Linked DNA regions of Homo sapiens. The protein of the gene in region 6 purifies or fractionates together with the protein of the main gene of each other region. This does not show direct contact. Each region holds a gene or a part of one and is shown on either strand. Other genes may lie near its edges. The genes, in order: POLDIP3, FAM83B, MOB2, ZCCHC17, ZC3H11A, PFKFB2 and PGAP2.

Region 1 (3,936 bases), on a different chromosome or scaffold from region 6:
TCTGCCTGCACTCTTTGCCCCAATCCAATCCCCATACAATGGCAAAGAAATATTTTCAAGCTAAAAATTGAATCATGTTACTCCTTTACTTTAAGAAGCCTTCAATGACAATAACGAAAGCTAACGTCTATCAAGCACTTAAGTACCCGTTGTCAGGAACTTTTCAATGCACTTCAGGTATATTAATTCACTCAGTCCTAACAATAACCTAATAAAGTAGATATTACTCAGGTTTTATACATAAGGAAAGAAAGGCAAGGAATGGTTAAGTAACTTGCAGACGGTCCTAGGGAAAGTGGGAGAAGCAGGGATTGGAAGCTTGGTGGTCTGCGTCTAGAGTCCCAGTGCTCACCTATGCTCCAGGGGCGTTGTGTGCTTCTATGCCTTTAAGGAAAGGTCCAAGATAATTACCAGCCTTTGCTGAACACTTGCCACATGGCACAAACTTTAAAACATACCTTCTGGCCCGGCGCAGTGTCTCATGCTTGTAATCCCAGGACTTTGGGAGGCCGAGCGGGTTCGGCCTGAGGTGAGGAGTTCGAGACCAGCCTGGCCAACATGGTAAAACCCCATCTCTACTAAAAATACAAAAATTAGACAGTCGTGGTGTCGGGCACCTGTAATCCCAGCTACTTGGGAGGCTGAGACAGGAGAATCACTTAAACCCAAGAGGCAGAGGTTGCAGTGTGCCAAGGCTGTGCCACTGCACTCCAGCCTGAGCAATACAGTGAGACTCCCTCTCAAAAAAACAAACAAAAAAAACCCTTCTCACATTTAATCCCGCTCAACCAGGAATCACCATTCCAAGTGAGGAAACTGCCTAGTTCAGAACTCCCCTGGCCAGGGAAACAGAACCCAACAGTGGCAAGTGCCAGGTGTATCCAGCTGCAAGGCCCCTGTTCCTGTGGATCCACACATAACCACCCCCCATTCCTGCAGCCCCACCTACTGCCCAACACAAAACTCTGCACACACTAAAACCAAAAACATAGAGATCAAATAGACTACAGTGCAGTCCACCTGCAGTCAGAAACTGGCGGAGTGACCTCAGAGAGAGAAGAACCTGGGGTGGATCATTCTGTCGTTTCCAAAGGAACCTACAAAACGTGGATGGACTTAGAAGTGGCCAGAGGAGCCAGCACCAGCTTCACATCAGTCACTAGATGGAGATCTGAGAGAGCTTTCACAGTCAGTAGTTGAGGAAACAAATACTAATGTGTGCCCGTTACGAACCACAAGCCAGGTAAGTGCTGGCTGCGAATTATGAGGTGGTGGTGGCAGTTGTAGTTGATACAAGTGTCCAGGATGGGGAAGGAGGTGAGGGATACATTTCAGACATCAAGAGAAAAACCTAACCACAGGCATACGGGTGGTATTAATAAACATCTGCGGAATGGCCGGGCCGGTGGCTCACGCCTGTAATCCCAGCACTTTAGGAGGCCGAGGCGGGAGGATCACCTGAGGTCAGGAGTTCGAAACCAGCCTGACCAACACAGTGAAACTTCCATCTCTACTAAAAATACAAAAATTAGCCGGGCGTGGTGGTGCACACCTGTAGTCCCTGCTACTTGGGAGGCTGAGGCAGGAGAATCGCTGGAACCGGGGAGGCGGAGGTTGCAGTGAGCCGAGATGGCACCACTGCACTCCAGCCTGGGCGACAGAGCAACACCCCGTCTCAAAAAAAACATAAAAATAAAAATAAACATCTGCTGAGAGAACAAATGTCTGAGAAAACAATATCTAACATATTTACATCCTGGCTATTTACAAAGACATTTAAACTTAATGTGTGTTGGGAAACTATTGGGCAAAGTTCTCACTTCTTCATACAGATGAACTCAGCTCACGAAGGCTTGAAATGACTAACAACATTTAAGGGTCTAGGGGAAGTTTGGGAGACATGACTGCAAATCACCTCCATGGCTCCTCAGCCAGCTCAAGCACTTTCTTCTCCCTAAGGAAATAACCAATCTCCTGCCCAACACACCAGTTTTTCAAGCCCATGTAGGAGGCCAACTCAGCCAGCAATTAAATCGCGCTCAGCCCGCCGCTCAGTTCTCCGTGGCCTCGGGCAAGTCACTCTACCACTTCCAGCCTCAAGTTCCCCATCAGTAAAAGGTGGGTAACATGAATAGCTAGCAGACAACAGGACTGTAAAAGATTAAATGAGGCATCGTGTATATGAAAGGGCTCAGAAAACTTAAAACGCCGCACAAAGAGAGGCGAGTGTTAACAGGGGCCGCGTGCAGGGGGATTTGGGCTTGCGCCTCAGCTTCGGCGGTCGGAGCAAGTCACTTCCCCGCTACTAAACTTCGGTTGTCTCAACTCTAAGATGGGTGGAGACCAGGCAGCGCCGAGATCACGGAGCGGGGCCCAAATGCCAGTCCACACAGGCAAGGAGGCTGCGCCGCCGAGACCCCAGGACCCCGGAACGCGGGGGCCCCAGGGGGCAGCCCCTCAGGTCCACGAGGCGGCACCCTGTCCCCGCCGCGGCCCCGTCGGCCTCCCAGGGCCGCCAGAGGGACTGCGCCTCGGCCAGTGGGCGGGCGGTCGGGGCCACGGCGGGGACGGCGGCAGCCGGCCAATGAGGAGCGCGGCTGTGGTCGGGGGCGGGCGCACCCGGTCCTCCGCGTCGCTCCCGGATCGCTACCTCCCCCGCCTCGAGCTCCACTAGGCCGAGGACCCTAAACCCCGAAGAAAGGAAAGGCCTCTCACCGTCCTTTCGCCGCCGCCCCGCGCTTCCTGATGAGTTCGTCCAGGGAGATGTCCGCCATCTTGCTCCGCCGAGCAAGCCGAAAGCAGTCGAGACCCCGCGAGCCCGCCCCTTCGGCCGCTAGGGAGCGACGAACTACTTCCGGCGTCCGCGGACCAACTCTCGCGACAGCCAGCTCAAAGCAGGCAAGAACCGGAAGGGGCGGGGACGTTCCCCGTGAGCCTTCGCGGTGCTGGCTGCTCATCTGCATACGGAAGTTCGGCACATTATGAATTATTTATTTTCCTCGAGGGAAAAAATTAAATGAAAAGCAACAAAATACATTATTAACAAGTGAGACAAACTTCAATGGAACTGGATCATGACCTCAACAGTCAACTACGATAGTCATCATACGCCTAATGAGAATAGAATTCATTACCTAGGAAATAAACTAAAAACGTCCTTATGCCTTAAACTTATGAGTAAGGAAAATAACGATTCGGGGTGACGCCCGAATCCTCACTGCTAATGTGAGACGAATTTTTGAGCGGGTAAAGGTCGCCCTCAAGGTGACCCGCCTACTTTGCGGGATGCCTGGGAGTTGCGATCTGCCCGACCTTATTCACGCCTAAAAAGTAGACTGACTGTGGGGTGGTCGTGTTTTTTGTTTCTTGTTGGTAGGTGGTGAATGCGTTTTTTTCGTTGTTTTCTCCGTTACTCAGGCTGCCAGTTGCTTGGCAGTCTTGTCGCTGGCTGTGGACGCTCTGCACTTCATCACCGTCCCCAGCTGCGCTTTGAGCCGGTCTAAGGTTGCCCACAGTATTGACGTTGGGACCCACGAAACTGGCAATTTCCATGTGTGCGGCCTTACCCAGTTCTCCCAAACTTCTGCGTATAACCGCTTCTCTGTGCTTCAGAAAGATAAGTCCGGCCCCGGCCTCACACAGCAGCTCAGTTCGTGACAGCGTTTAATATGTAAAATGGAGCAAATAATTTATAGGGCGTTGGGAGAGTTAAAGAGACTAATTCATTTACGTGTTAAATACAGGGAATGGCTTTTGCATTGATATAACCCCAGCCTCCAGCATGCGCCAGACCTGACGTAGGTGTTCGGCACATATTTTGTCCAATCACTCTAAAAATACACTCCATGCCCTTAGAACAGGTGGGGTTATGTCCTCTTGGCCATCAGGCATCAGGAGCTCCGTGCAGAAACTGGGTAAGAGGCCAGGAGCGGTGGC
Region 2 (2,414 bases), on a different chromosome or scaffold from region 6:
CAAGACCTGTAATCCCAGCACTCTGGGAGGCCGAGGCGGGAGGATCACGAGGTCAGGAGTTTGAGACTAGACTGGCCAACATGGTGAAATCCCATCTCTTCTGAAAATACAAAAATTAGCCGGGTGTGGTGGTGCGCACCTGTAATCCCAGCTACTCAGGAGGCTGAGGCAGGAGAATCGTTTGAACTTGGGAGGCAGAGGTTGCAGTGAGCCAAGATTGCGCCACTGCACTCTAGCCTGGGTGACAGAGCGAGACTCCATCTCAAAAGAAAAAAAAAAAGAGCAAGAATTTTCGCAAGCAAGACCCCTTAGCATTGTCATGCCAATCTAACAAAAATTTAGGCAGAAATTTACATTTCTAAAAGCTTTTATACAATAGAAAAAGGAGGGGGAATCATTCAGATTTTCTAAATTCCTACTGGTTTGTCCTAAATGTGAAGTAAGGAATGACTATAAAAAATCAGCAGCCTATGGGTAAGAGGGGGACAGCTCCCTGGGTCCAGTGTAGAAAGAAGCACATCCCAGACCGTTTTCAAAGGCTGAGGAAAATAAATTCCTACGAATGTCATTATACTACATGAGGCTGATACTTTGCAAACACTTCAGGCAGAAAAAAAAATAAAAAATAAAAAATGTAAAAGGTACTGCTGTTGCCCAAACAGCTGTACAATGATCCACAGAAAAAATAATATTAATAAAATATAACAAGTTATCCCGTAGAACTTCAAGTTAATCTTAAAAAAGGGCTTTGTCCCATTTGCTTATATTTTTGAAGATATGAAAACACTATAAACACATGTTATAAAGGGTTACTGAGGGTAGTATGACCTTTTTAAAAGGAAATGGTTAAAATCCATACACCATACACCATACACCATACATCGTCCACAAAAATTTCTAAGTGAGACTTAAAATCTTCAGTCTAAAGAAAATGATTTAAATACATCTATTATTTTTACCATTACCACTTACAAATAATGTGTTTACAGAGAAATTCTATCTACAGCAGACCCTAACTTTATCACACAGAAAAATAACTTTATACTAGGACACTGGTGAACATATACATCATACCCATAATTCTGTCCTTAGGAAAATCTATTGGCATGTTACAAAGACTGTCCACAATTTTCTTTGGACAAATATTGATAGCCTCATTCATTTTGCATTTTAATAGCTATTTATTTTTGTGTATAAAGTTTCCAAACTTTTGCATAAATCCTCGAAACTTGTTCTCATTGGGTTGATATGAGCGATAAACACCAGTGTTGTAATTAAGCAATGGACTAGACCTGCCATAACTGTTGCCCATAGTCGCAGATTTTATTTCTGGGCGATTTATACTGGTATTTGGCATGTTGCTTGTTGGCTGAATAGAGCTCTCAATCTTACAAAACGGCTCAAAACGACTGTAAACACGCCGATCAGTTGAATGAGATCGTAGAAGCTCACTGGACGTTGGCCTTGGAGAAGAAGTAGGTCTTCTTTCAGGGGTAACAACTGCATTAATCTCCCTTGAATCTCGGTATTGGATCTGTTCAGTGTTAAATCTTGGGGCAGAGGCATCTCCTGCCCTTTCCAAGAACTTGCTTTCAACTGGACCTGGAGAAGGTGTTCTTTTATTTTCATCTGGTGGAGCATTTATCTCTTGAGATGGGCTAACTGTTACATCTTCCTTACTCTTGTGGATGCTGCCTTGAGAATTCGATGAGGAAGAATGCTTTCTTCTAGGAGATGAATCAACTTTTGTGTCTGATTTCTTTGGTTTTTGATTTTCTTCACCCTCAGAAACTAATGTGTCAGAGCTACTACACAATCTATAAAAGGCAGGTGCTTTATTTTTGGATAGATTTTCTTTCTTATCTGGGGTAAGGCTAAGTAATGACCTTAACTTCTGAGACCCCTTTTTCAAAAAACTTGGGGAACCCTTAACTTCCTTCTTTGAAGCAAGTTCTTTGTTAGATTCCTCTTTATTCACATCAAGTAAAGCAGCAATGGAAACTGATTTGGTAGTAGTGCCACTTGGAGAGTTTCTCTTGGTAACTTCCTCCTCATCCTCCTCCAAGTTATGAGTCACATTGTGCATGCTTTTAGAACTTTTCAGCAAATCTTCTTTGGGCTTTTCTGGTTGTCTAACTCGATTCCTGGTAAGTGTACTATATACATAATGCTTACTATTTCCAGGATCTAAGTTGGCTTTTGAGTTGTCAAATAACGGGAAACTTCGCCTTTTAAGTAGATTCTCAGTCTGTTGATTCTTTAGATTTTCTGTCTGCTTATTTACACCCAAGGTTTTATATATATAGTTATTTGATTCAGTATGGCCATTTGTAGTTTGGTTTAAGGCTACTGAGTGGTTTTCAGGAACCTGCAAGGTGTGCATTTTTGGTGCCTCTGACTGCAATGGGAGCTTG
Region 3 (3,500 bases), on a different chromosome or scaffold from region 6:
TCCCAGGCTGCAGGCCTCACCGTGGGCATCGCCACCAGGCTGTCAGACCCTCTGAGAATGCAGAGACAACAGTCCTTTCAGCATCTGCTCCTCGAGAATGATGTAGAGGACGCACGTATCCCCACTGTCCTGGGGTTCCCAGATGGTGTAGGGGAGGCCCAGCCCCTAAGGGCCAGGCTGAGGCCCATGTTTCCAGGGCGAGGACCCAGCCAGGATGGCTCAGCACTCTGCAGGAGTCAGACACTGGCTCCAGGTACCCTGACACTGCAAGCTGACATCTGATGCACCTGGCCACAGGTGTGCGACAGGTCTCAAAACAGTGGAGGTTAGAGACGGAAACCCTTTTCCACAATGCAAACCCAGAGAAAGCAGTAACTCAGGGACACTGTGGATTGTCCCATCTGTTCTGAAAGATGGAACACCACTGTTTCCTGTACTTCTTCAATTATCAGTAAACCGTTTCTGGTATATAGTTCTAAGATTTTTATCCACATGTGGACTCACGCATTCATAACCACAATCAGGACACGCGGCGGCTTACGTGGCCCCTCACACCCGTGCTGCTGTGCCCCCAGCACCCCGGGGATGGCTCCTCAGGGATGGGCCGCGGGAAGGAATCGCACCGCGCGGATCCTCCCGATCTGGGCCCCTCTTGCACGGAGGCCCCTGGGATGCAGTCACGTGGCAGACGTGTCGGAAGTCCACGGCTCCTCACTGCCCAGACACTGCCCCTGCAGAGATGGACATGGCGTGCTCATCTATTCACCTGTGTCCCTGCCAGCAGAACAGAGTCCCAGGTGGCCACATCCTGGCCAGCACCAGTGTCCCGACCGGCATGTGGGCAGGTGGACATGGGTCTGCCCATGGTTTCGGCTTGCCTTTCTCTAATTGCTAACAACACAGGATAGCCCCAGCTGCCATCCTTACACCCTCTTTGGCAAACTGTCTGCTCATTTCTTTTGCTGACAGTTAACTGGACTGTTTTGTTTTCTTACTGCTGAGTTGTGTATGTTCTTTATGTATTCTGGATATCAGTCCTTTGTGGGATGTGTGATTTGCAAATGTTTTCTCTCCCAGCCTGGAGTTTGTCTTCTTTCTCTTAAAAGTGTCTTGAAGCAAAAGTTCTGAATTTTGCTGCCTAGTGTCAGGTCATAAGGATTTCCTATGGTTTCTTCCAAAAGCTTTGGAGTTTTAGATGTTTGCACGAGGCATGAGGGATAGGTCAGCGTTTGGTTTTTGACACAAATGACTGCTTTTCCCAGCAGCATTTTTGAACAGACTACCCTTTCTCCCTTGAATTTATTTTGCTCTTTGTCAAAACTCTGATGGCCCCGTTTGTGTGGGTCTATCTCCGGACTCTCCATCCACACGTTTGTGTGGGGCTGTCTCCGGACTCTCCATCCACACGTTTGTGTGGGTCTATCTCCGGACTCTCCATCCACACGTTTGTGTGGGGCTGTCTCCGGACTCTCCGTCCACACGTTTGTGTGGGGCTATCTCTGGACTCTACTGTGTTCCATGGAGCTCTGTATCCATTCCTTCAACACTGCACACTGTCTTAATTACTAGAGTTTCACAGTAAGTCTCAAAAGTGTGAGATTCCTCTTATTTTTTCAAAATCATTGTAGCTATTTCAGTTAATTTGTCCCTCCATATAAATTTTAGAACTAACTGGTCTATACTTGAACTCTGCTGGGATTTGGATTGAGACTGCACTAAATCAACAGATCAGTTTGGGGGAGAATTTGTGTTTGGAGTCATCTTCCAGGTGATAAACGCAGTGCGTCTCTCCATTTATGTAGACCTTCGATTTTCTGTAACAGCATTTCGTAGTTTCCAGGGTGCAGATCCTGGGAATGTCTTGTTAAGTTTATAACTAAGGATCGCATTATTTTTGGAGCTATTATAAATGGCATGTTAAATATTAATTTCAGTTTTAAATTTCACATTGCTAATATACAGACCTATGACTGATTTGTGCGTGTTGACCTCACTAAATTTATATTATTATTTGCTACAATCCTTGAGGTTTTCCCAATCACACGTGTGCACAGGGATACAGCAATCCCCCCCATCCACAGGGGATGCACTGCAAGACCCCCAGGGGATGCCTGAAGCCACAGAGAGCACCAAACCCTATATATGCTGCGCTTTCTCCTATACATACATTACTAAAATAAAGACAGGCAGACTTGATTGATTGACTGAGATAGGGTCTCGCTGTGTTGCTAAGTTAGTCTCGAACTCCTGAAGTGATCCACCGCCTCAGCCTCCTGAGTAGCCAGGATTACAGGTGTGAGCCACCACACCCAGTGTAATTCATAAACTGAGGACAATCAGTTGCAGTGAGTGGCTGGGGTCGCATATCAGGGGGTCCCTTGCTGGCCTCCTGCAGGCTCAATGGCAACACGCTGCTGCTCCCATCCTCTCACCTCCTCCACCCACAGATCCAAGTACTCAACACGCACTGTGGCTGTCACTTTTGCAATTTCAGATGTAACAGCGAAATTAAAGGGACTTTTTTTCCCTTTTTCACAATTTCATAAAGAAGAGATTTGTTCTTACCTTAGATCTTAGCAACCTCACACACAATCTGTTTCTTTCTAGTCAGGAACTTTCACCTTTTCATCTTTAGGTCAAGGAAGTGCTTTCTGTCTTCTCTTTGGCATATCTGAATTGCCAGCATCACGCTCTTGCGCTTTGGGCCGCCTCATGTCACATAAGAGCAACCTGAGCACGAGCACCCTGGCACTGCGGCAGTGGATCCACACGGGGGCCGAGGCACAGCTGGGCCGAGGGAGGAGGAGGCACACCTGGAGCAGGACGGTGGAGACCGCATCACACTGCTCAGAACAGCATGCAGTTGAAAACTTATTAACTGTTTATTTCGGGAATTTTCCATTAACTATTTTCAGACCATAGTTGACTGTGGGTAACGGAAACTGTAGATAAGGGGGGCTTATTGTTTTATTTCTTTTCCAATTTGGATGCCTTTTATTCTTTCTTCTTACCTTATGGCACTGCCTATCTTAGGCGAGTTCTGATATACTGCGCTTTCCAAAGAGTTGGTCCATTTAACCCAAGCCATAGAATTCATGTGCACAGAGGGTTTTTTTCCAATACTTCCTTATTATCCTTTTAACATCCACTGGGTCTACAGTGATACTCCTCTTTACATCCACAGGGTTTAGTGACACTCACTCCTTTTTATTGATCATTGCATCTTCTCTCTTATCTTTGTACCTACTAAAGGCTTACCAATTTATTACCTTTCAAAGTCATCACATTTTGATTTCACTCATTTCCCCTATTGTTTTAAAAATCAATCTCAGTGCTTTCTGTTCTTATTTACTTTCTTGTCCTTGATTTTGACTTATTTTGCTCTTTTTCTAGTTTAAGTTGGAAACGTAGATTACTGAAAGTCATCTTCTTTTTCTAAGAAAGCATTAATCCTATAAATCCCCTCTAGGCACTGCTTGAGTTATGTCTCACAAATTCTG
Region 4 (3,500 bases), about 180 Mb from region 6:
CATCAGGCACAATGGCAGACAAGTCATGGTCTCTGTTTTTGTGGGTCTTACACACACACTCTTTCAAAAGCAAAGGTGTGGTTCCGTACACCATAGTATGAGGAAAAAAGAAAAGGTGCTATAATCTCAGATATTAGAGGATAAAACAAAGCGGCATTTAAAACAATAACTACAAGTAGCTACATGTATGTCTACCATAGACTAGACATGAAGCTGGCTCCTTACAAATAAGATTTTACTTAAATCACTCAAGCATTCCTTAGATATATGTTACTGTCTCCTTTTATAGTAAAGAAGCTAAGATTCAGATAGACTAATTAATCTGCTCAAAGTCATATATTAGTTTGGAGCAGAACCAGTACTCTTTCTGATTCAAGTCTAGCTCTAAATCCTCTAATCATTCCATTATGCCATGCTTCCTTCCTGGATGCAGCTATAGACATAATTTACAACAAAAGTTACTGTTTCAGCCACTTGATTATTACTAAAAATAGTTCTACACAGAGACAGCCCAAAACCAGGGAGCCCTTTCCCTTCCCTACCCATTTTCTGAGAAACAGGGTTAGCTCTTTTATCTTACATGTTTTATATTTTATCACTGTAAGGGTGGCTTTGGGAAATTTCACTATTTTTTAATGAGTCCATATAGCATTGGATTTTTTGGAGCAGAAGCTATTTATTACAATGCAATCATCAGAATTTTTTCTTTTTCCTTTTCCCAACACTAACTTGAACCACAGCCAGATTTAAACACTTCTGCACTCTGAGTTATAAAAGATTCCTACTATTACTGACAGTATTTTGTCAATAATCAGCCTTACAAACATGTTAATATTTAGAGACTAAACCACAGAAATATGAAAAGTTCTGTAAGTCACATGCAAGAGTGAGAAGCATTTTGTGGTGAAAAGGGCATTAGCTTTAAGGTCAGAGAGACTGAGTTTTGAGTCCCTGATAATTTTCTATGTAACCACAGGTAAGTTACTTATCACCAGGCACCAAGCTATAAAGTAGGAATATAAGGTAAAATGGAGATAACATCCACTTTGCAGGTTGTTATGTACCCAAGAATGTACATAAAATGCCTGGCACTGCAGTATGTATTCAATAACATTTCCCTTACTTCCAGATAAAATTCCTTCAAATTCAAAGTGATTTTGCTCAGAACTATAAACATAAGGCTTTCCAAACTTTTCACCAATAAGATCCCACTCAAATAACATTCTATCATTTTTCTTGTCTTTTAAATTCATCAATGACATAATTGTCATTGAGCGTACCTAATTAACATAAGACAAACAATGTGATATTTTATCATCAAAAGCAACAAAATAACAGCATGGTTAACCTGAGGACACACATAGAATTTTGGATGGCTTTCTAAAACACTAAAAACAGTTAATAAACCCTCCAAGGGCCGGGCGCGGTGGCTCGCGCCTGTAATCCCAGCACTTTGGGAGGCCGAGACGGGCAGATCACCTGAGGTCGGGAGTTCAAGACCAGCCCGACCAACATAGAGAAACCCCATCTCTACTAAAAATACAAAATTAGCCGGGCATGGTGGCACATGCCTGTAATCCCAGCTACTGTGGAGGCTGAGGCAGGAGAATCACTTGAACCTGGGAGGCGGAGGTTGCGGTGAGCCGAGATTGTGCCATTGCACTCCGGCCTGGGCAACAAGAGTGAAACTTGTCTCAAAAAAAAAAAAAAAAAAAACCCTCCAAGATCCCCCTTTAAGAGACTTTAGGGATCCAAGAACCTCCGATGAGAAATTTAAGAAAGAAGCCTGGGCATGGTGGCTAACAATTGTAATCCCAGCACTTAGGAGACCAAGGTGGGAGGATCGCTTGAGCCTAGGTGTCCAAGAACAACCTGGGCAACATAGGGAGACCCTGTCTCTACAAAATAAAAATTAGGTGTGGTGGCGCATGCCTGTAGTCCCAGCTACTCGGTAGGCTGAGGTGGGAGGATAGCTTGGGCTTGGGAGGTCAAGACTGCAGTAAGCCGTGATTATGGCACTGCACTCCAACCTGGGCGACCCCATCTCAAAAAAAAAAAAAAAAAAAAAAAAGAAATCCAAGAAAGACTTGAGACAGACAGAACATTCCTTGTATTGCCAGACATTGTCCTACATAGATAATTTCCCATTCCTAAATGAAAGGTCAGAAGAGCCAACGAAAGTAAGATGTTGTTTTCAGAGCACAGTGTATCCCAAGATGTGGGAGTCTAAACCCCGCTGGAGTTGTTCCTGGATTACTCTACCCTTCCACGTGGTCTCTATGTGGAAGAGACCCACGTAACCCCACCTGCAGAAATCACTGGGAGAGAGGTAAAGAATAGTTCTTCATGAATGCTTATTAGCTAACTCGTTAAAGGGCAGAAACAGAAAGAGATTAAGGGAAAGGAAACAAAACCATTGATGGAGCACTCCAATGCCAGGAGCTTGGTACGTTAACGTTTCATCTTAGAACTCTATGCAGCAAGGTGTTAACTATTTTTATTTTATTACTTTATTTTATTTTTTGAGACCGAGTCTCACTCTGTCATCCAGGCTGGAGTGCAGTGGCATGATCTCAGCTCACTGCAACCTCTGCCTCCTGGGTTCAAGAGACTCTAGTGCATGACTCAGTCTCCCGAGTAGCTGGGACTAGAGGCACGCACTACCACATCCAGCAAATTTCTAGTTTTGTATTTTTAGTAGAGACGGGGTTTCGCCATGTTGGCCAGGCTGGTCTCAAACTCCTGACCTCTTAGGTGATCCGCCCACCTCGGCTTCCCAAAGTGTTGGGATTACAGGCGTGAGCCACCACGCCTGGTCTAACTTCATTTTACATTTCTAAAAACCAAAGATTGCAAAGGTTACGTAACTTATCAATATCACAAAGTCCATAAATGGTAGAGTTACCAGTTCAGTCTGATTTACTAAACCATTTTATGATTTGGGAGGCAGAAGAATTTTCACCTTTCCAAACCTTTTACTTACTCAATGATAACATTGTTGGGATCAAGGTCTTTCCCAGTCCCTTGATTGACAACCTTCATGGAGAGGGATACTTTTATTCTATCATTTTTCATCTGAAAGAGACCAAAAAAAGTCACCAAAAACTTTAAATACATCATTTAGATGGCCAGTCTAAAATTAAGAGTCAACGTTTTCATCATAACATTGAGCTTCTTTAATGGACCAGGTACTGTGCTAGGAACATTGCAGATACAAATAAGCATAACAGGTAGACCCTGTGGCAGAAGAATTTTAGGAAACAGTCTTAATCTCATTCTTGTCCCTCTGAGGGAAAGACAAAAATGGTAGCTCAAAAAATCCATGGCTTGTGGAAGTAACCAGGCAGAAAATAAAAGTTTTTCTTCCAGGTAAGTTCAGCATAGTGATTTGTTGAGATATCCCTAAGTCCAGAATAGGTTTTTGAATACTTCAAGAGACTAGATCTCCTTCTGGACTTGGTCTAGAGCTTCTTTAAGCATGAAGACATTTGTCACATTGG
Region 5 (3,500 bases), 3.2 Mb from region 6:
GTCTCTAGGATTTTCTGCTTCAGGCACAGTGACTGATTTGTCCTCAGAGACAAGCGGGACAACAGCCTACAAAAGGAAGAGTCAGGTAATTCAGTGAGAGTCAGGCTTTTTAATTTGAGCATATTCATTTTCTTTTGCTGCCTTCTTAGAATTGTGGCTATGATTCTTTAAGCCTGTGAATCTAAGAATCGATAATCTAAAGGTTGAGTATATAAATAAGCAAAATATCTTGCCACCTAAAAATTAGCTTTTAAAAAATCCTGTCCTGCTACTTCACAAATATCAAACTGTAAGTATAAAATACAGTAGTAACCCAAATTACTAAAATGCTAGGAAATGCCAGGAAGTGATATACTCAAGATAGAATGCTAGTGGAGAGTTAGTCTTTCCTGCTTTCCTACCACACAGAATAAAGCACCACAAAGTGAATATACTTCTTACCACAGCTGCCTTTTTGGCTGGGGGTTCCTGTAGGACACTGCTGGAGCTGAGTGGCTTCACAGCGGCAATGACAGCAGCGTGCATCTCCACTGCCTTACGTTTTGGGGCCAATTTGGGGGATGACACAACTTTAACCACAGATGGCTTCACGTTCACTTTGGGTTTAGCTACAAAGGGCAGAAAATATCTGATAAGCAGTGAGAATAGACTCTTTTAAATGGGGAATAATTCAGAATAAAATATCAAAACTCCTTCAGTACTAGAAATACCACAAATAATTCATTTAAAAAGAGACTGAAAACGATTCAAAGGCAATTTGTGGTCACATGGTGGTCACTACAGGTGGTCACCATGTAGATACAATACCACTTAAATTTGTTACCATTCCTCTATTCCTTGTTTTTATTCAATACCAGAGGAAAGATGCACCATAGAAAGTTTTACACAAAGCTTTTTAAATAGCAATTTTAAATTCTGAGAAAAGAATTCATCTCGTTTTGCCTCTGTATAAAAATATCAGAAATATTACTATCTACCTGTGGATAGAAGGCAAATGAAATTCAACCCAATTGTTGCCAGGAAGTTACTGGCAACAATTGGGTTGAATTTGGTAATTTTGATAACCTAAAGCAATACACAGTATAGAAATACTTGCCTTTACCCCTTTTTTCCAAGGTCTGTGCTGCACATTTCACATTCAATAATGAGTCTCCAATCCCTGAGGTTTCTACCTCCACCTTCTGGGATGACTTTGTGGGAAGCCGCTTGGTCAGGTGCCGTGTGATTCCTGGCACAGCAGTGAGCACTGGTTTCTCTGCCACTTGGGTATTGCAAGAGGCTACATCTCCCCGAAGAGGTGTCAAGACTGATTTTTCCCTCTCCTGCTGTTTCTGCATGTGCTTCTCTCTCATGGTCTCACATCTCTTGACTTGAATTTTAGTGATGTCAACTCCTGTGGTCTCACCTGAAGCCTGTGGATAAATTTGAATGACAGAATTAAAATCTGGTACCTCTAATAACCTGTATGATGTAAGTACCAGGCTAACATCTAAGTTAAGCAGAATCTCACATGATCCAGAATCTGAGAGAAAAGCTCTTTATTTGATGTTAAATAGACAATACCCTGTTAAAGATGAAAGATTAGAATTACAGATGTATGGAATAATAAAAAACCCAGATTCCACAGGCTAGACAACCATGACTCTAAGTCAAATACTAATGATTCCTAAATAATCAAATACCTGCACAAAGATTTATGTACAAATATATTACTTTAAATTGTGTAAAACAAAATCTGAATGTCCAGAAAAAGACTGTATTTGTATAATGGAGAATCATGTGGTCAGTAAAAACAAACTTCTTGAAGAATTATTAACATGGTAAAGTTAAAGCAGGCTGTAAAATGATACACTGTAGAGTTCTCCATTATGTTCTAAACATGGGTTTAACATTAAACAAATTCACATGCATGCATATATAAACAAAAAGGTCGAAGAAGGCCAAGTGTGGTGGCTCACACATGTAATCCCAACACGTTGGGAGGCCAAGGCAGGCAGATCACTTGAAGCCAGAAGTTCGAGACCACTCTGGACAACATGGAGAAACTCTGTCTCTACTAAAAATACAAAAATTAGTCAGGCTTGGTGGTGCATGCCTTTGATCCCAGCTACATGGGAGGCTGAGGCACAAGAATCGCTTGAACCCAGGAGGCAAAGGTTGCAGTGAACCGAGATCATGCCACTGCACTCCAGCCTGGGCAACAGAGCAAGACTGAAAAAGCTCGAAGAAATCCATGGAAAAGATAATGATGGTTACATCTGAGCTGTATATTTTTAGGGTTTGTTCAGTTTTAAAAAAAATAAAATTTCCAACTTTTGTATGATGCATAGCATTAGAAAAAACTCAGTTAAAAAAAAGTAATGGCCAATTAAACAAAAAACTTTATTTTTTGTATTTTTAGTAGAGACGGGGTTTCACCGTGTTAGCCAGGACGGTCTCAATCTCCTGACCTCGTGATCCGCCCGCCTCAGCCTCCCAAAGTGCTGGGATTACAGGCGTGAGCCACCGCGCCCGGCAAACAAAAAACTTTAAAAGGGCAGCGAATACTGATATACATAGAACTACAGGAAATTCTCATAAGAAATTATAAGTAAAAAGAAAGACTGTTTACCTAATATATGAATGAAGTACTTAGAAATTTATTGTAAGGTAAAACTACCAATTATCTAGCCTTTGTTTGCCATGAACAAAACCATACAATAATCTTAAATTTACCTCTTTAGCTTCTGTTCTAATACTGCTCTGAGAATCAACTTCATTTCCTTCCTGAAGGTTCTTCTCTTCTTTCATCCCTGTATTCACATTAAAGACATCATTAGTTATTTTATTTAAGCTGCAACTTCATGATAGATATGTTAAACAAAACTTTATTTAATGAAAGTAGTAAGACAGGACAAATAAAATTACAGATAAAGCCCATCTGTGCTCCTAAAGTCTCAAAATACACATTAAAATAGCAAAGGTTGGCCGGGCATGGTGGCTCACACCTGTAACCCCAGCACTTTGGGAGACTGAAGCAAGCAGATCACACTTGAGGTGAGGAGTTTGAGACCAGCCTGGCCAACATGCTGAAACCCCATCTCTATTAAAAATACAAAAATTAGCGGGGTGTGGTGGCACATGTCTGTAGCCCCAGCTACTTGGGAGGCTGAGGCAGGAGAATCACTTGAACCTAGGAGGTGGAGGCTACAGTGAGCCAAGGTCATGCCACTGCACTGCAGCCTGGGTGACAGAGTGAGACTCTGTCTCAAAAATAAAATAAAACAAAATAGCATAGGTCTACATAGCACTACTGAAAAACTTCATTTAATTCAGTGTTTTCAACGTTATCTGAGTAAAGAAAGGTTGTCAAACAACTCCTAGGAAGATCCCACGGAACACTCCTCTGGAATATTATGTGGGGACGTGGTACTAGAGACCAAGTTCTCTTGTTACCTGTTCTTTTGGTGATTCGCAGCAGCCGCCTTGCCCCTGGAGTGGCCTCGTGTTGAGACGGGGAG
Region 6 (3,500 bases):
GGGCTGGGTAGCCAGGCTGCTGCAAGGGTGGGGACCAGAAAGAAGAAGCAGCAGATAAAGCTTACCGCAATCTGACCATTCTCCTCAGTGAGATACGCCTTAACATCTTCCAGCGCCACCAGAGCACACTGTCTGCCATAAGAGCAAATGAAACCAGCAAGGAGAGCTAAGCTCAAACAGTCAGAGACACAAACATTCGGGTGGCTACAGAAGTCACATCCCTGCCCACTTAGTTTCCCACTGTTCAAAACCTTTCTCTAACTAGATCTTTCAACTTTCTCACTGAGGGTTTTCACACCATCCTATAACCCCTTCCTGCCCCTGCCCCAATGCACAGATCTTAGCCCTCTTTAGACTTCTCCTACAAGCACACAGGTATCAATCACCCTGAGCCCTGTTCTTCTGACCACCCAAGCCCAAGGTCACTTGCCCATCAGATAACTTCCATTTAACTTCCCCTTAAGATATTTACTGAGATGAAACCAAGCCCTGTCACACCAAGTCTCATGACGGCCAAGAAAGAGCTGACCTGGAGATCAGGCCTTAAACAAGACTCACTTGCGGATCTTCATGGCCTCCTCATTGTCATGCCGAAAGAAGTCGTAGGACTTATAGGACTTGACTGCTTCACGCCGATACACCCCAAGATTAAACACTGTAGAAGACACCCAAATCCTTCAGCAGCAAAATAATATGATGGCCCCACCAAATGGGACTTGTTTCTTGGCCTAATGTCGGAGTGACCAAGGGGATGAAAAAAGCGGCAGCATGGTAGGTTGGGAACAATATCAGATTAAGAGTCAAAAGAGTTGGGTTCAAGCCCTGACTTTCTAGACCTTGGACAAGTCTTAAGCTGTCTGAGGTTTCAATTTCCTCAGCCACTCTGTCTATTTCACAGAGACACTGCTAGGGTTATATAAGATGATGTCCATGTAAGGCTTCTGAAAAGGTACAGCCCTATGCTCATCTAAATCTTAACAGTCCTATCAAAGGCATTCCCTCAAAACTAGGCCAATCCACCCACGCCAGGAGGAGACAAGTCTGGGAATAGAGAATAACTCCAGTAAACCAGAAAGCAACTGCTATTTCTGCCAAAAGCACCCTATAGCATTGATGCCAGGAAGAATAAGTCTCCCAGAGACCTGTGAGGCCCAGGAACTAATAATTGTCTTTCCTAGGGAATGAGCCACACTTACCTTTGGTGGGGACTCCAATCCAGTTGAGGTAGCGTGTTAGTTTCTTGGACACGTAGGTTTTACCCCGGGCTGGCAAACCAATCATAACGATCAGAGTCGGGGAGTTGGTCATGTAGGAGGCCCATGCTAGAAGGAAATGAAACAAAATAAAACGAAATGACTAGAGTCCTAGTAAGGTTTTTTGGTGTTTGTTTTTTTGAGACGGAGTCTCACTCTGTCACCAGGCTGGAGTACAGTGGCGTGATCTCAGCTCATTGCAACCTCCGCCTCCCAGGTTCAAGTGATTCTCCCGCCTCAGCCTTCCGAATACCTGGGACTACAGGCGCCCTCCACCATGCCCAGCTAATTTTTGTATTTTCAGTAGAGATGGGGTTTCACCATGTTGGCCAGGATGGTCTCAATTTCTTGACCTCATGATCCACCCACCTCAGCCTCCCAAAGTGCTGGGATTACAGGCGTGAGGCGCCCAGCCCCGCTGGGGTCTAGTAAGGTTTATACACTGAGCTACGAACTTCATAGTCATAATCTCATTTTATCTTCATAAACCTGTGGAGCAAAGGTTCAGCAAGTCTGGGAAGACAAATAAGGAGATATCAGGCAGGCCTCCTGAAATAGAGTTAAAAGGTTATGCAGGCTTCCAGAAAATGCCCAAACCAAGATACGTCTTTCCCACATGTCTGAGGTCTTCACTGCAGTACCCAAGGTGGAAAGAGGAAAAAAGTAGCAAGGCTAAGAAAGAAAATAACCATGCTGCAGCCAGACATGACAGCTCATGCCTGTAATCCCATCAATTTGGGAGAATGAGGTGGGAGGATCACTTGAGGCCAGGAGTTCAAGATAAGCCTGGGCAACATAGAGAGACCCTTGTCTCTTAAAATATATATATATATATATATATATATATATATATATAAAGATATATATAAATATATATAAAGATATATATAAAGATATATATAAAGATATATAGATATATATAAAGATATATATAAAGATATATAAAGATATATATAAAGATATATATAAAATATATATATTTAAGATATTTATATATATCTTAAATATATAATATTTAAGATATAGATATATATAGATATATAGATATATAGATATATATATTTAACTTAGCCAGATGTGGGAGTGTGCACCTATAGTCCCAGCTACTCAGGAGGATTGCTTGAGCTCAGGAGTTCAAGGTTGCAGTGAGCCATGATCCCGTCACTGCACTCCAGCCTGGGCGACAGAGCAAGACTTCGTCTCAAAAAAAGAAAGAAAGAAAGAAAAGTAACAATGACATCATCCTTAACATAAGAATGCCTAGAAATATAAAAATGACAGAGCTGTGAAGGAAGGTCTAATGCTTGGAGATTCTACCAGTGCAGAACTGAGCTGGCTCCTATAATAGGTCCAACAGAGTTTCTGTCTCCAGGATCCCACTCATCCCTTCAGAACCATGGGCAAGAATTAGCTTGCCCACTGCAAAAAGCCCTGCCTCAAGCTGTTTTGGCCTTTTCACTCAGGTCATGAGCTCCTCTTTAAGCCAGAATTTCTAAACCATAGTGAGATTGAGTTGGCAAAGCTTACTTGATACACATTCTGAATAGACCTCAGGAAGCTTCAGGGTAGAGCCAGCCCACAAAGGGCATCAGGGCCAATCTGCCACCATGGCCCACGTAAAAGCAAGACAATTGAGAAGCATTAACAGTCCTCAGTCTACCCTTCCTTAGTAAATTAACTTACTTCAGGAATGCTCATTTGCAGAGATAAGTCTCACTGGACAGGCAGGGCAAACTACATGTTCAGGGGACAGGTGACTTGTCTAGGGACACATAATGAGTCAAGGGTACAGCTGGCACTAGAACACAGATCTTGTGCTTCCTTGCAGCTTTTCTCCATAAAAAGAGGTTCCTCATCACTTTGCTCACAGGGGCTGGCTCCTCCCGGCCCATCTTGCTGCAGAGGAGAGGTGGGAGAAGGACCTGAACTGCTGCCAGCCACTGTCCCGGGGCCAAAAACCACACTGAGGTCATCTGGGATAGCTCAGGCTCTGCCGGCTCCAATGAGGGAAGGCCCTGCACAGGATGGGGGAAAAAGGAAGAAACACCTTCACCTCCCACTTCCCACCACTGCTTCCCAGAAGGTGCCCTGCAAGTTGCGGCTGCCCCTCTGCCTGGTACTAAGGGACCTTGTAAGATTAAGAAACAGTTCTGTAAAATGGAGGTACTTGGATGGGAAATATGACTTTCATTTTTTGAGAAATAAATGTAGAAAGATCTCAATGGAGAAGTGGGAGGAGGGGCCCAG
Region 7 (3,500 bases), on a different chromosome or scaffold from region 6:
AGTAAGGCCAAGAGAGGATGTGGGGTGGGGAAGGCCAGAATGGTATCGTGTTTCTTGTTTCTGGGCAGTGGGCTGCGTCCTCCCAAGCAGGACTGAAGGGTTCAGAATCGCTTTTCCTCAGGCTGAGAGGTTATGAGCAGCTCCTTGTTCCCGAAGTCCCACCAGGCCGTCATGTGGAACGCCATGTTGGTTAAGACAACAGTGTACTCCAGGATGGCAAAGATGGTGTACACTGTTGTGAGGACACAAGGAACAGGACATGGTGAACTTCCAGCTACCCGCTCAGAGGCCTCTTGATAAATCACACCACCATTGGTCTGCCACAGAGAACACAATGGCAGCCAGTCCCCAAGACCATTGCCCATTATCAAAAACATCATTGCTGCCCCGCAGCCACTCATGACCGCCTGTGGATCCTATCCTGGCCTCACCTCCAGCCTCACAATACATGTTGTGCCGAAAGTAGACAGCCAGCGCCGAGAAGAAGGAGATGAAGTTGATGATGAAGAGCCGCTGTTTCCAGCTGTAGGACTTGCGATCCTAGGGAATGGGCTGTCTGATCACTCTGCAGCTTGCTGGGTATGAGAGCGTGGGCTCCCCTCTCAGCCCTAACTCCTAAGGGCTGGGCCTTATCTCCCTTGGCTCCCACTAGCGGTCATGGAAGGGAGCACAGGCAGGGGCAGCAAGAATGACGACTATGTGTTCACGTCCCTGCCTCTGGGGGAGTGATGGGCCGAGGAGCAGTGGTATTCCTGCCGCTTCCACTTCAGGGGGATGGAGTATGAAAGTTACATGGAGTCACCCACCAACCCCACCTCCAAATACTGTGGGGGAAAAGAAACCCATGTACATGGGTGGGGCGCTGGAATTATGACAGACCAGTCCTCTGACACTGTTCCTAACTCACTGCCGCCTAGATGCGACTCCTCATTCTATCCCCATTTGCAGCCTCCATCTCTTCTATTCTCCAGTCTCCCACACTACCCAAACACAGTGCTATAGTCCTAGATTCTGACCAACCACCCTCAGTTTGTTCCCAAGCCCCAGCCCCAACCCCAGCACCCCTCTGCCAGGGTTCCCATTAGAACTCAGTTCCCACCTCACCATTACCCGAATCCTGAGGACAGATGTCCTTGATTTTCTTCTGGGCTGCCTTGGAGCCCCCGCTAGGGATAGACCGTACCTCCTGACTTACTGTGTGCTTCTTGGTCAACCGCCAGAGAATGCAGGTGAGGAGCATGTGCCCGAGGGATGAGGCAATGAACACAATGAAAGCATTTTCGTGGATGGCTGGAGGGAAAGAGGATTGGGAGCCACATTGCAGGGAGTGCCCACACCACGAAGTAGGAAGGTCCGAATGTGGTAGGGGCAGGCCCGTCCCCTCAGGGAACACTTCCCCACTCCTCCCTCATCCAGGCACCCACTGAAGTCCTCGGAGGAGGAGACATAAGTGAGCACTAGCAACGCGAGGTTCTCCACGACATTGAGGCCGAAGTTGAGGCGGCAGAGCGGGCGATAGCAGGAACACGGGGAGGTGCAGCTGAGGTAGTGGTTCCAGTAGGCGAAGGCCACCAAGAAGCGAGGCGCCGAGTGCAGGCCGATGCAGAAACGCCACACGTAGCGCTGGGGCACCTCCCCGCCGATGGCTGAGCTCACCGAGGGCAGGTAATTGGGCACCTAGAGAGTTGTGACCTGTCTGGGCATCTGCCTCTGCCAGCCCCGCCCATGTGGAGAACCTTCTCTCCATCTGACAAAATCACTCTTGCCTCTGCTCCAGCCCCTCCCCTTCCAAGAAGTCCTCCTTCAGATGTCCCCATACCTCTCCCAAAAGACCTCTCCTTCCAGGTCCTAGGCCCAAAGTGCTGGATTCTCATTCCCCAGCTATCCTGGGATTTGTGCAGCAGCATGGTGGCACCTTCTCCATCTCCCCCGCAGACTGGAACCTGCCTGTGTTTGGTCAATGTGTAGATGGGTTCAGATGCTCTACACCCATAGCTCAGAGCTGTGCCTCCACTAAGACCCTGGGTGAGTTCCAAGGCCTCAGATTCAGTCCAGAGGACAGGGATGAGTCACAGACCATCTGAGCTTCCTTAGAACAGTGCTGGATTCACTGCTCAGCTAAGATGTTCCTCAGTCTGCTCCCAGCGCCACTCACTCCTCTAGGCAGGTGTGCCAAGGTGGTAGAATGGCACCCCTGCTCTGATCATGATTAACAAAGTGGGTGGGCTGGGCACGATGGCTCACATCTGTAATCCCAGCACTTTGGGAGGCCGAGGTGGGTGGATCACCCGAGGTCAGGAGTTAAAGACCAGCCTGGCCAACATGGCAAAACTCTGTCCCTACTTAAAAAAAAAAAATTAGCCAGGCGTGGTGGCCAGCGCCCGTAGTCCCAGCTACTCAGGAGGCTGATCAGAAGAACTGTGTGAACCTGGGAAGCGGAGCTTGCAGTGAGCCGAGATTGTGCCACTGCACTCCAGCTTGGGCAACAGAGTGAGACTCTGTCTCAAAAAAAAAAAAAAAAAAAAAAAAAAAAAAGAAAAGAAAAAAGAAAGTGGGTGCTCCTAACCTGGGGTAGTCTAAGGAAATGACCATGTTCTTGTGCATCTCCACCATCCATCTTAATGCCTGGAACTCCTATTGAAGCTTCAGTCCTTAAGGAAAAAGGAGAAGATAATACACAGCTGCAGGGACTGGTGTCTTGCTTGTTTGAGAGGTGAAAGGATGGGGGATGACTGAACAAGGGTTTAGATGGGGACAGGAAAGCCAAAGATGGGAAGAGGCTCTCTTAGACTCCAGGGCCTAGAGCAGTGCTTCACAAACTTTAATTACCCATACAACTCACTGGGGGAATTGTTTGAAAATGCAGAAGGCTTGGAACCTGAGGATCTGCATTTTTTAATTTTTTAATTTTGTTTTCCCCCTTTTTGAGACAGGGTCTCACTCTGTCGCCTAGGCTGGAGTGCAATAGCATGATCATGACTCACTGCAGCCTTGACCTCCTGGGCTCAGGTGATCCTCTCACTTCAGCCTCCTGAGTAGCAGGCTAATTTTTGTAGAGACAGGGTTTCGTCATGTGTCCCATGCTGGTCTCAAACTCCTGGGTTTAAGCTATCCATCTGCCTTGGCCTCCCAAAGTGCTGGCACTACAGGCATGAGCCACCTCGCTTGGCCAGAATCTGCTTTTTTTTCTCTTTTTGAGACGGAGTCTCACACTGTCGCCTAGGCTGGAGTGCAGTGGCGCGATCTTGGCTCACTGCAAGCTCCGCCTCCCGGGTTCACGCCATTCTCCTGCCTCAGCCTCCCGAGTAGCTGGGACTACAGGCGCCCGTCACCACGCCCGGCTAATTTTTTGTATTTTTAGTAGAGACGGGGTTTCACCGTGTTAGCCAGGATGGTCTCAATCTCCTGACCTCGTGATCCGCCCACCTCGGCCTCCCAAAGTGCTGGAATTACAGACGTGAGCCACTGCGCCCGGCCGTTTTGTTTTTGCTTTTGTTTTT

Evidence for each region.
Region 1: the proteins of PFKFB2 (region 6) and POLDIP3 purify together in Homo sapiens (affinity purification with mass spectrometry; one large-scale study listed by BioGRID and IntAct). This does not show direct contact.
Region 2: the proteins of PFKFB2 (region 6) and FAM83B purify together in Homo sapiens (affinity purification with mass spectrometry; one large-scale study listed by BioGRID and IntAct). This does not show direct contact.
Region 3: the proteins of PFKFB2 (region 6) and MOB2 purify together in Homo sapiens (affinity purification with mass spectrometry, with the first as the bait; one large-scale study listed by BioGRID). This does not show direct contact.
Region 4: the proteins of PFKFB2 (region 6) and ZCCHC17 purify together in Homo sapiens (affinity purification with mass spectrometry; one large-scale study listed by BioGRID and IntAct). This does not show direct contact.
Region 5: the proteins of PFKFB2 (region 6) and ZC3H11A purify together in Homo sapiens (affinity purification with mass spectrometry; one large-scale study listed by BioGRID and IntAct). This does not show direct contact.
Region 7: the proteins of PFKFB2 (region 6) and PGAP2 purify together in Homo sapiens (affinity purification with mass spectrometry; one large-scale study listed by BioGRID and IntAct). This does not show direct contact.

What each region holds. Positions count from the first base shown.
Region 1 is NC_000022.11:42,612,084-42,616,019, forward strand, and holds the start of POLDIP3 (polymerase delta-interacting protein 3), read right to left. Parts: upstream 2,801-3,936; 5' UTR 2,775-2,800; coding exon 2,716-2,774; intron 2,697-2,715; exon of another isoform or gene 1-2,696. UniProt on the Homo sapiens protein: Is involved in regulation of translation. Is preferentially associated with CBC-bound spliced mRNA-protein complexes during the pioneer round of mRNA translation. Contributes to enhanced translational efficiency of spliced over nonspliced mRNAs.
Region 2 is NC_000006.12:54,940,771-54,943,184, reverse strand, and holds part of FAM83B (protein FAM83B), read right to left. Parts: coding exon 1,178-2,414; 3' UTR 1-1,177. UniProt on the Homo sapiens protein: Probable proto-oncogene that functions in the epidermal growth factor receptor/EGFR signaling pathway. Activates both the EGFR itself and downstream RAS/MAPK and PI3K/AKT/TOR signaling cascades.
Region 3 is NC_000011.10:1,473,280-1,476,779, forward strand, and holds part of MOB2 (MOB kinase activator 2), read right to left. Parts: intron 1-3,500. UniProt on the Homo sapiens protein: Stimulates the autophosphorylation and kinase activity of STK38 and STK38L.
Region 4 is NC_000001.11:31,338,532-31,342,031, reverse strand, and holds part of ZCCHC17 (zinc finger CCHC domain-containing protein 17), read right to left. Parts: intron 3,076-3,500; coding exon 2,984-3,075; intron 1-2,983.
Region 5 is NC_000001.11:203,847,623-203,851,122, reverse strand, and holds part of ZC3H11A (zinc finger CCCH domain-containing protein 11A), read right to left. Parts: coding exon 3,436-3,500; intron 2,793-3,435; coding exon 2,716-2,792; intron 1,413-2,715; coding exon 1,097-1,412; intron 609-1,096; coding exon 442-608; intron 67-441; coding exon 1-66. UniProt on the Homo sapiens protein: Through its association with TREX complex components, may participate in the export and post-transcriptional coordination of selected mRNA transcripts, including those required to maintain the metabolic processes in embryonic cells.
Region 6 is NC_000001.11:207,059,775-207,063,274, reverse strand, and holds part of PFKFB2 (6-phosphofructo-2-kinase/fructose-2,6-bisphosphatase 2), read right to left. Parts: intron 2,364-3,500; exon of another isoform or gene 2,345-2,363; intron 1,323-2,344; coding exon 1,197-1,322; intron 656-1,196; coding exon 559-655; intron 133-558; coding exon 66-132; intron 1-65. UniProt on the Homo sapiens protein: Synthesis and degradation of fructose 2,6-bisphosphate.
Region 7 is NC_000011.10:3,822,060-3,825,559, reverse strand, and holds part of PGAP2 (acyltransferase PGAP2), read right to left. Parts: intron 2,652-3,500; coding exon of another isoform or gene 2,567-2,651; intron 1,948-2,566; coding exon of another isoform or gene 1,820-1,947; intron 1,678-1,819; coding exon 1,425-1,677; intron 1,291-1,424; coding exon 1,184-1,290; coding exon of another isoform or gene 1,105-1,183; intron 825-1,104; exon of another isoform or gene 541-824; coding exon 432-540; intron 233-431; coding exon 102-232; 3' UTR 1-101.